2 separate regions of the Homo sapiens genome follow, and region 2 is linked to region 1. The links come from fine-mapping of genetic effects on gene expression. Tissue or cell type: whole blood. Region 1 holds a variant in brackets; the other region holds the start of a gene. All regions are shown on one strand. Distances are between the middles of the regions. Region 1 has its middle 5.0 kb from the start of H3C3. Region 2 holds the start of H4C4 (H4 clustered histone 4).

What was found. PIP is the estimated chance that this variant, and not a neighbour inherited with it, causes the effect.
Region 2: it holds the start of H4C4, and the variant in region 1 is the best candidate, but not a certain one, in a credible set for the expression of H4C4 in whole blood (INTERVAL, PIP 0.67).

Annotation. Positions count from the first base shown.
Region 1 is chr6:26,047,738-26,053,124 of GRCh38, forward strand. No RefSeq gene overlaps it. Among named protein-coding and RNA genes, the nearest start is that of H3C3, 5.0 kb to the left of the region's middle. The variant GCA/G (reference allele first, on the strand shown) is at 2,848.
Region 2 is chr6:26,185,792-26,191,178 of GRCh38, forward strand. H4C4 (H4 clustered histone 4) reads right to left here and starts at 3,321. Exons shown (of 1, transcript NM_003539.4): 1 at 2,919-3,321. The coding sequence starts at 3,285. The coding sequence ends at 2,974. RefSeq lists enhancers at 1,922-2,547, 3,330-3,509.

The DNA.
Region 1 (5,387 bases):
AGAGAGAGAGAGAGAGACAAACTAACACATTTGTAGGGCCCCTCTCTGCACCTTGGAAGTACAGGCCCTTACACTTGTGTTTCATTAGCTTCAGGATAAATCTGCCCCAGATCACTGGCCAAATTTTACGTGGCCTTCTTCAGCATCCTACCACTCTATTCAAATACATCTCTGCAGGAGCACCCTGTGAGTTGAGAATTACTGGTCTGGGATGACCACTGTTTGCATGATGCTTTGGATGGTGGTGCTGTTCTCAGAAGAAATACCAGAAGGAGAAAGGTTAGTCAGGAGAATATAAAGTCAACCTTAAGCAATTTGAACACTTCAGTGGTTAAGTGAGTTCCCTGGGACAACTCTGCAAGCTGTTTTAACTTTATTTGTATTGAATATTACCTTCTTTTAGAGAGGCCAACGTGTAGAAGGAAATAACAATGAAACAAAGGATTCATTAATAGTATAAACTATAAACTAACTGTCATTGATAGTCTTCCACGGGCCAAGTACCACATGAAGTGGTTGGTCTGAATTATTGTGTAAAATTCTTACTTCAGCATTGTAAGGCAAATTATCTCACTGTCTCCATTTTACAGAAGTGGAGGTTCAGCCTCAGGAATTTCACTAAATTCGCCAAATTCTTACTACCAGCAGATATCATTGCCAGGCAGTGTCACACTTTAATATCTTCTAATCAATAAGATAACCCTAAAATTGATTATCATATATAATTTCCTTCTCATATATAGTTTCATACTATCATATATAGTTTCCTTTGTTTCAGAAATTGGACTCCCTCAGGGTGGATAAGGAGACATGGTGGTGTCCTGGCCTAAGTATTGTTGGAATCCTCTAGTCAGAGGCCTGATGTGAGGTGAAGTGGACAGTGAAACTGCCTTTGCAAAAATCATAACTGAGAAAATTATTACAGTGAAAGAGATCTTACCTAACCGACTCCATCTAACGTCTAAACTCCAAGCTGTCCTTTTCATTCCTGAGTTTGGGATTAACTAACTTTGGGAGGAGCTTAGTTTATACTTTTGCTTTTAAACAAAAACAATAACAGCCCTTTCAGAAACAAACCCCTTTCCTGCCTGGGGACCAGACTGCTTTTGCAGGACTAACAAATTAGCCACAAGATTATAAATTATGGTTTAGGAGTCATGCAGCTGGAAGCTACAAGATTCTAAACCTCAAATTGCTCCTGGGGATAAAATCACTATTTTAAAACCTAAGATCAATGCTTGAGCTATTTTGCAGACCCTGAACACAATGGATTAGCTGGCACCACCCATATAGATAAACTGGATTATCTGGTCTTGAGTCCCCCACCCCACCACTCCCAGGAACTGATTTAGCACAAGAGGACAGCTTAGGCTCCCTATAATTTCATCTCTGACCCAACCAAGCAGCACTCCCGACTCACTGGTCCCCTACAATCAAATTATCCTTAAAAACTTTGGTCCCCAAATTCTCAAGGAGACTGATTTGAGTAATAATAAAACTCTAGTCTCCTGTAGCGCTGGCTCCTTATTGCAATTCCCCTGTCTTGATAAATCAGCTCTGTCTAGGAAGTGGACAAGGAGAGCCCGTTGGGTGGTTACAATAGGACAAACCAATAAAATATAAAGTATTAGAGACACTACCTGGGTTTCAGGAACAGGTCAGAAAAAGTGTTTTCTTGGAAAACATCTGGATTCTGCTGCAGAGCAAGTATTTGCTTGTGTCTTCCCAGAGTATAAAAGCTGTCCTGTCCAAGATAGTTGCCACTAACCATATGTGAGTATTAAGCATTGGAAATGTGGCTACTCCAAACTGTGATGTGCTTTAAGTGTAAAATACACACCAGATTTCAAAGAACTAGTAAAATAACAAAGTAAAAACTCAATATTTTAATATTAGATACCTTGTTGAAACAATTTTTGGTTACACTGGATTCAAATCATTAAAATAGATTTCTTTTTTCACTTTTTAAAATGTGCCTATTAAAAAATTTAAAATTACATATGTGGACCCTATGTTTCTGAGGAACAGTGCCAGGACATAGAGGATAGTTATATTCACTCACAGATCAAAAACTAGCAAAACTATGAAATACCTAATAATTTAATTTTTCACCTTAACTTTTGGCATATTCCACAGATCTGTAGTATATTTGAGTGTGATAGCTTAGGAATAAATATGATTGGAACTCATTCATGTTTAGAGAGAAAGGGTGTCAAATTGAGAACCAGGCAGATACACCTAATCTTAAAATGACCCCAAAGTAAAGTGGTTGAAGAAATTAAATCCCAAAGATTTTTGGTGAAGAATGTTGTAGTTTTCATCAGTATGTGTATGTTCAAATGGAGATTAAAGAAGGCAAAATAAGGCCGGGTGCAGTGGCTCACACCTGTAATCCCAGCACTTTGAGAGGCCAAGGCAGGCGGATCATGAGGTCAGGAGTTTGAGATCAGCCTGGCCAACATAGTGAAACCCTGTCTCTAATAAAAATACAAAAATTAGCCGAGCACGATGGCATGCGCCTGTGGTCCCAGCTACTAAGGAGGCTGAGGCAGGAGAATCACTTGAACCCGGGAGGCAGAGGTTGCAGCGAGCCGAGATCACGCCACTGCCCAGCAGCCTGGGTGACAGTGAGAGACTCCGTCTCAAAAAAAAAAAAAAAAAAAAGTCAAAATAAAAGAACTGTGGGCTGACAACTGTGGATTAAGCATCAGTTCTATTAAGAAGGGCTAACTTGAAGATGAATCTTTTGAAGATACATTTTGACTCCAGCTCTTTAGAGGAACAAAGTTTACCTTGATGTGAAATTCTTCAAATAAAAATTTATTGACTTTAAATTTAAAAAAAAAT[GCA/G]CACACACACACACACACACACACAGCTAACTAGCTACATCCTTAATGACACCAAGCTTTAGTCCTTCACCCTGAAGTGGGAATGACAATGGCACTTACTTCAAAGTGCTGTGACAAGAATGTGTTTGAAAATAAATATAGAGTAATCAGCAACAGTGCTTGGCATATTGTAAATAAGTGCTCAAAAAATGCTAGTTCCCAAAACTGTTGTTGCCACTGTACCCTAAATCCCTATTCTCTTCTGATATCCTTTAGTGATGTAATTCTGTCTTGCACTGGGCCTGTTCATCTCTGGTATGAATTTCAACCACAATGTCCTTACTACATTTCCCTCAGGCTTATATAGCCAAAATATCCAGAGCTTTGCCTAGGAGTGTATAATATGATACTTCAATTTGTAGCCATGATAGCACTGTGTATGAAAGTTTGGAATAATGCGCCGGGCATGGTGGCTCACGCCTGTAATCCTAGCACTTTGGGAGGCCGAGGTAGGTGGATCACTGAGGTCAGGAGTTCGAGACTAGCCTGGCAAACATGGCGAAACCCCGTCTCTACTAAAAATACAAAAAAATTAGCCGGGTTTGGTGTCAGGTGCCTGTAATCCCAGTTACTCAGGAGGCTGAGGCAGGAGAATTGCTTGAACCGGGGAAGTGGAGGCTGCAGTGAACCAAGATCACGCCATTGCACTCCAACCTGGGTGACAGAGAGAGACTATGTCTCAAAATAAATAAATAAATAAATAAAAAACAGAAAGTTTGGAATAATGCATTACAAGTAGCCTCTAGTTTTTATGTTACTCATAGTTTTATCACACAAGAACAATGTCATAAATTTTCATGGTTGAATTATCAGTTGTTTATGCAATATTCATTGATGTTTTTGGCTTATCAGCAGTGTTTCTGGAATTATTTGAATATTATTACCGTTTTTCAAAATTATTTTATAAAACTAATTTAAAAATCAAAAATGATATAATTACTAATGTGAAATTAAATATAAGTTTTGAAGAATATCAGGATGTCACCCCCAAATTATTCTACTTTGGCATAAAAGTTATTTTCAGCTGAAGGCAATTGAAAATCAACAGGTGTAGGAAGAGGTCTCTGTCTTCTCTTTACCCAAATTTCCCTTTGTGAAGGTGACAGAAATTTCCCTTGTAAAAGTGTCCCCAACTGCTATACCAGGAAAAAGAGAGCAATTCTTATCACTAGATATGGAAGGTTGGCACTGAGATGACTCTGCAAAAACAAACCTTACTACAATTATTTCTATCTTTCATTTTATCTTCCATGGTTTTTATTGCCCATGTATTTATTTCCTTGTCACATTCCCAAATTCGTCATCCCATGAAGTGCAAACTCCCTTTCCTTTGTTGGAATGGTGTATAAGTCTGTGAGTCTAACCGCGTTTTTAAGGTTTCAATTTTTTTTTCTTTGGGAACTCTGTGCATGTAATATACTAATAAAATTGCATGCTCTTTTTTTCGCATGTTAATCTGTCCTTTGTCAGTTAAATTTGCAAGACACTACTTAGTGAATCTAAGAGTACAGAAAAACATGTGTCCTCATTGACAGTTTCAAAAACTAAGTAAAATTGAGGCAAGAATCTTTTTCATCTTAAAATGGCCAATTTTAATTTCCAAATGAATGGTTCATTAGACCTAAGCCAGTAAGCTATGTGAACAATTGTGATGGAATAAAACAAAACTAAAGAGCATGAACAAAATTGAGAAAACATATGCAAGACTGAATCTAAAGGCCAAATAGAATTGAAAATTTTTCTAATTTTTAACTCTATAAATTAAAGGAATGTGTTTCATTTGACGAGTTTCATCTGTGGAAACATGTTTGCAGAAGACATTCGAGGTTAGGATTAATTGAAAGTACATAAATCAAATGGATTAAGACCCCAAAGGGCATTGAAGGAAAATTAGAAAATCAGCTATTTTTGCTTGGGTTGATTCCTCTCCTGACTAACTCTTGGAGATGATAAGAACATCAATTAAATGGGTAGCCATGAAAGTATCTAAGGGAGAAAGGAACACAGAAGTTCAATGTACCATAACTTTATTTTTATTTATTTAGTTTTTTGAGAGAGAGTCTGGCTCTGTCGCCCAGATGGAGTGCAGTGGCGTCATCTTAACTCACTGCAACCTCTGCCTCCTGGGTTCAAGTGATTCTCCTGTCTCAGCCTCCCGAGTAGCTAGGATTACAGGTGTGTGACACCACGCCCAGCTAATTTATTGTGTGTTTTCATGGCCAGGCTGTATTTTCATGGCCAGGCTGGTCCTGAACTCCTGACCTCAGGTAATCTGCCTGACTCAGCCTCCCAAAGTGCTGGAATTACAGGCGTGAGCCACTGCTTCCGGCTTTTTTTTTTTATGACGGAGTCTCGCTGTGTCACCCAGGCTGGAGTGCAAGGTCTCGCCTCACTGCAACCTCCGCCTCCCAGGTTCAAGCAATTCTCTGCCTCAGCCTCCCGAGTAGCCGGGATTACAGGCGCCTGCCACCATGGTTGGCTAATTTTTATACTTTTAGT
Region 2 (5,387 bases), 140 kb after region 1:
ATACAAAAATTAGCTGAGCATAGTATCACAGGCCTGTAGTCCCAGCTACTTGGGAAGCTGAGGCAGAAGAATAGGAGAATTGCTTGAACCCAGGAGGCGGAGACTGCAGTGAGCCAAGATCACACCACTGCACTCCAGCGTGGGTGACAGAGGGAAATTCCATCTCAAAAAAAAAAAAAAAAAGAAGAAGAAGAAGAAGAATATAGGTCTATTTCACTCAGCAAATGGTAACTCACTCCTGTTCAATGTATTATTTAGTATTATGTCTGCGATTCCTCTCTATCTTTAAATTTGGGATCTCTAGATCTCAGACCCTGAAATCCTAGACTTCTGGTTGTTGACAGGAATCCATGGAGCCCTGGGAGTTCCTTGAGTTTCTGAGAATAATGAGCCTCATAAAATGTCTATGTTCATATGTCTATTTTCAACAGATTCTCAAAGGAGTTTTTGATCCATCTATTACTACAAACTACTCTATTTTTTTTTTTTTTTTTTTTTTTTGATACAGAGTTTTGCTCTTGTTGCCCAGGCTGGAGTGCAATGGCACGATCTTGGCTCACCACAACCTCTGCCACCTGGGTTCAAGCGATTTTCCTGCCTCAGCCTCCTGAGTAACTGGGGTTACAGGGATGTGCCACTATGCCCAGCTAGTTTTTTATTTTTAGTAGAGACAGGGTTTCTCCATGTTGGTCAGGGTGTTCTCGAACTCCCAACCTCAGGTGATCCCCCTGCCTTGCCCTCCCAAAGTGCCAGGATTACAGGTGAGAGCCACAGTGCCCAGCAGAACCACTCTTGAAGGGAAGTCAGCCCATTGAAATATACAGGTTACCACTGCTGAAGACATATAGACTATCTAGTCTACCCATTGATAACTTTTTTTTTTTTTGAGATAGAGTCTCACTCTGTGACCCCAAAGTTGCTAGGACTACAAGCATGTGCCAGCATGCCCGGCTAATTTTTGTATTTTTATTAGAGACGAGGTTTCTCCGTGTTGGCCAGGCGGGTCTCAAACTCCTGACCTCAAGTGATCCACACACCTTGGCCTCCCAAAGAGCTGGGATTACAGGCGTGAGCCACGTGCCTTGCCTGATCTCTAACTTGTAATCAGCCCCACTCTGTTCTGTCTATAATGGAACCCAACAGAGGTGATACCAAGTCGACAGGCTCATTTGGCATCAGCTTTTCTGTAAAGAGCTTTCAGGTCAATGGAAGGACATTCCACAATACTAAATAAGTTTAGTAACAAAACTGAATTTTGTGTGATAAAGTTATGCTGCTTACAAAGAGACTCAACAATAAATAAGCTTAAAGACAGATATTTTTGTTTCATGGAACAAATCCATTGTGATTAGTCCAGCTTTGTGAAGCAGCTCTGCTCCTTGTGATCAATCAGGAAATTTCGTTCCTTCCAAGTCAATGTTCTGTCATCTCCTAGGGCCTGATGTTCTCTAATTGCTCAAAATGAAATCAATACCATTATACTTGGGGAAGAAGGTAACATGGAAGTTTCAAAGCCCAGACCTGGTAGTAACTTTTCTATGTGTCTCACCTGTGTTGGAAATAATGTAGCCACATGCTTACATCTGCTCCCAGAAAGACCAGGAAATGTTGTCTCTTGCTAGATAGCCACCTGTCCAGCTTTCTTTTTATTATGATAAAGTGAAAAAACTTTATTGGAAAAATAAGGGTTTACTCAATATTCTCCACAAATTAAAATCCATTTTGAGGACAGCGAATAATACAGTGGCATACTGATAGTCCTGCGATTGTAAGGACTGGAGTAACCCACTAGGGAATGGCTTACTTATTTTTGTCTCATTTCCTGAGGTGTAAAGGGAAAGAAGGTGGGAATTTAATCATGACAACCTCGGTTTTAAACACCCATTCATGCAACCACAGTAACCTGATCTATGATTTAAGGTAAAATGACTTCTGTTAATAATAAAGTCTAAGACTATTTAAGATAAAAGGACAACAAAAAAAGAACTCGTTCAACATACCTTTAAATTGGCCACGGGTACATAAATAAAAAGTCCTTTTAAATTCAACAATAGAAAATCAGTAGATCTGGATGGAAGGCAGCTCAGAGGAACAGAACCAAACAAGTTGGCCTCTCCCCATTCCACTAAAAAATGTTGAATCTTATGTACTTTCATGGTTGTTTCTCCCACGGTAATTACTACTTTCTTCTTTAAAGAATGTATTTGCCAGTCAAGTGCCTCCAACACACCTCCCATCCCCCCACACCAATAACCATCTGAATGCCATTTTGTCTTCCTTTCATATAACAATGCCTTGGTAGGAACTAGTAACTACCTCCATTTTTTTCACTATTCTTCACGGCAGCATCAGCCTTTACCACTTGCCTTCTGAGATACAGGTTTTGCTACCTTGTTTCTCCAGCAGCTACAGTCTTTGCTACCTTGTTTCTCTGATAGCCATGAAGAATGTTAGCAGCAGTTTGCCATGTTTCCTTACAGAAATACAGAAAACACAGGCCAAGCGTGGTGGCTCACGCCTGTAATCCCAGCACTTTCGGAGGCGGAGGAGGGAAATCTCTTTTGAGCTTGAGTTCAAGACCAGCCTGGGAAACATGGCGAAAACCCATCGCTGCAAAAAATACAAAGATTAGCCGGGTGTTGGTGGCGCAAGCCGGTTGCCCCAGCTACGCAAGAGGCTGAGGCACAAGAATCGTTTGAACCCGGGAGGCGGAGACTGCAGATTGCCGAGATCGCGCCATTGATTACTCCAGCATGGGCGACACAGCAAGAGTGAAAATAAACTTTAATACACTATCCTCACCGGCCAGTAAGATATGAAGCCAAGGCGTAATAAGACCATTTAACTTGAAAACCGGAGCTACTAAACACGTGAAACTACACTTTTAGCAGTGACTACTACTCTTTCTCCTGAGTGGATAGGTGGCCCTGAAAAGGGCCGTTGGTTTTGCGGTAGTGTACTGTAGAGGTAAGCTCAGCCGCCGAAGCCATAAAGAGTGCGTCCCTGGCGCTTGAGCGCGTACACCACGTCCATGGCTGTGACTGTCTTGCGTTTGGCGTGTTCCGTGTAGGTGACAGCATCGCGGATTACATTTTCCAGGAAAACTTTCAGCACTCCGCGAGTTTCCTCATAAATGAGGCCAGAAATACGCTTGACGCCGCCGCGGCGAGCCAGGCGGCGGATAGCGGGCTTGGTGATTCCTTGGATATTGTCACGCAATACCTTACGGTGACGCTTGGCGCCACCCTTACCTAGACCCTTTCCGCCCTTACCGCGGCCAGACATCTTGAAACCACAGCTGTTAAATCTGTAACGCAATACGTCTGGCAGAGCCACGCAGCACTTTTATAATAGCATGACGGACCTGTTTGAAAACCTCATGAGAAGGGGCGGGAACCACAGTCAGTTCCCGCCCTTCTGTGCAATTCTCCCTTGCTCAGACTGGAGGAGACCAAGAGGGGCCTGAGGCAACAAAAGAGCCTCAGCTGGGATTTAATAAATACTGCTAGGTATATATATATATATACACACACACTATACTTGCAGCCATTAACTGAGCCATCAGTTCATAAACTTTCGACAAAGAAGCCTGACAATTGTCCCCCACTTTTCCCAGAATATCAAATAATTAGTACTGTTTCCCTCACAGGGTGCTTTTTTTTTTTTTTTTTTTTTTTTTTTTTGAGACGGGTTCTTGCTCTGTTGCCCAGGCTGGAATGCAGTGGCACGATCTAGGCTCACTGCATCCTCTGCCTCCCGGATTCAAGCAATTCTCCTGCCTCAGCCTCCCGAGTAGCTGGGGTTACAGGCGCCCGCCACCATGCCCAGCTAATTTTGGTATTTTTTTAGTAGAGACGGGGTTTCACCATAGGCCAGGATGGTCTCGAACTCCTGACCTTGTGATCCACCTGCCTCGGCCTCCCAAAGTGCTAGGATTACAGGCGTGAGCCACCGCGCCGGGCCATAAGGTGCTTTCAAAGTATTTTAAGTAACTCATATCTTTATTGTCTCTGAGATTATTTTTATTGATTTATGCATTCCTAGTTAACCAAGCAGGGCTCTTTGGCATGCAGGCTAGATAGTGCTACTGAGGGAACTAAAAGTATATGAAAGTTACACATTTAGAGGTCAAATTAGGATAAGATCACCGAGGGCCGATTGAAAACATGACTATGTACACCCGTAAAAGAAAACCTTGTTGGGCTGAAATTTATGAAAATTTATGCTTTGATTGTGCCTTTAATCATGGACAGATTGTAGCTAGCACTGCATCATTCACCATATTCTATTACTCCAGCAAATTGGCATCATAGTATCCCTCCAAACTATCATAGAGACAGCCTGCTTGACATACATGCTGTGGGGGTGACCCTGGGCAAGCTATACTAAGTTTCCTTGTTGTAAATGTATTTTTAAAAATCTAACTTGTAAGTATTTGTTAAGTTGAAACAGATAATCCTATCAAAATGCTTAGAATAGTGTCTAGATTCCAAATAAGCAATGACTAAACATTAATTATGGTATAGTACAATATTGTGGGTGTTTTCAATTCCTATCCTTAAGGTTCACCCTTCTAAAGGGATGAGAGACAGTATTCTAATTTGCTAAAATCTGATTTCGAGAACTCCTCAAAATAATAAATAATTAAAAACTTAACTCATCATTAATCCCCATAAAAAGTTCCAGGTCCTTTGGGTGGAATATTTGGCTTTTCCTTCATGACTTGTGAGAAGAACCAAGTTTATCACAGCTGTTTGCTGTTTATTGAGTTTATGGTACATGGAAAAGATTGCAGAGTAAGGTTCTTAGCCTGGGATACATAGAAAGTCTTCAGGGGATCTGGGAATGAGTATAGAAAAAAAAAAAGTCAAATCTTTTTTTTTTCTTTTTACTATTCTCCAACAGAAACAGCATTTTTTCTGTGTATGAACTCAGGCAACAAACAGTGTAATTGGCAGGACAAGTGCTTCTATTTATATCACATTCTCATTGCCAATATCTCGAAATTTCATTTAAAAATCTCAATCCTAAAGCCGGGTGCAGTGGCTCACGCCTGTAATCCCAGCACTTTGGGAGGCAAAGGCGGGAGGATCACGAGGTCAGGAGATGGAGACAATCCTGGCTAACACAGTGAAACCCCATCTCTACTAAAAATACAAAAAAATTAGCCGGACATGGTGGCGGGCACCTGTAGTCCCAGCTACTCAGGAGGTTGAGACAGGAGAATGGCGTGAACCTGGGAGGTGGAACTTGCAGTGAGCAGAGATCGTGCCACTGCACTCCAGCCTGGGCAAAACAGCAAGACTCCATCTCAAAAAAAAAACAAAAAAACAAAAAAAAACCTCAATCCTTCAAAACTATAATAAGTCTTAGTCATATGGGTAGAT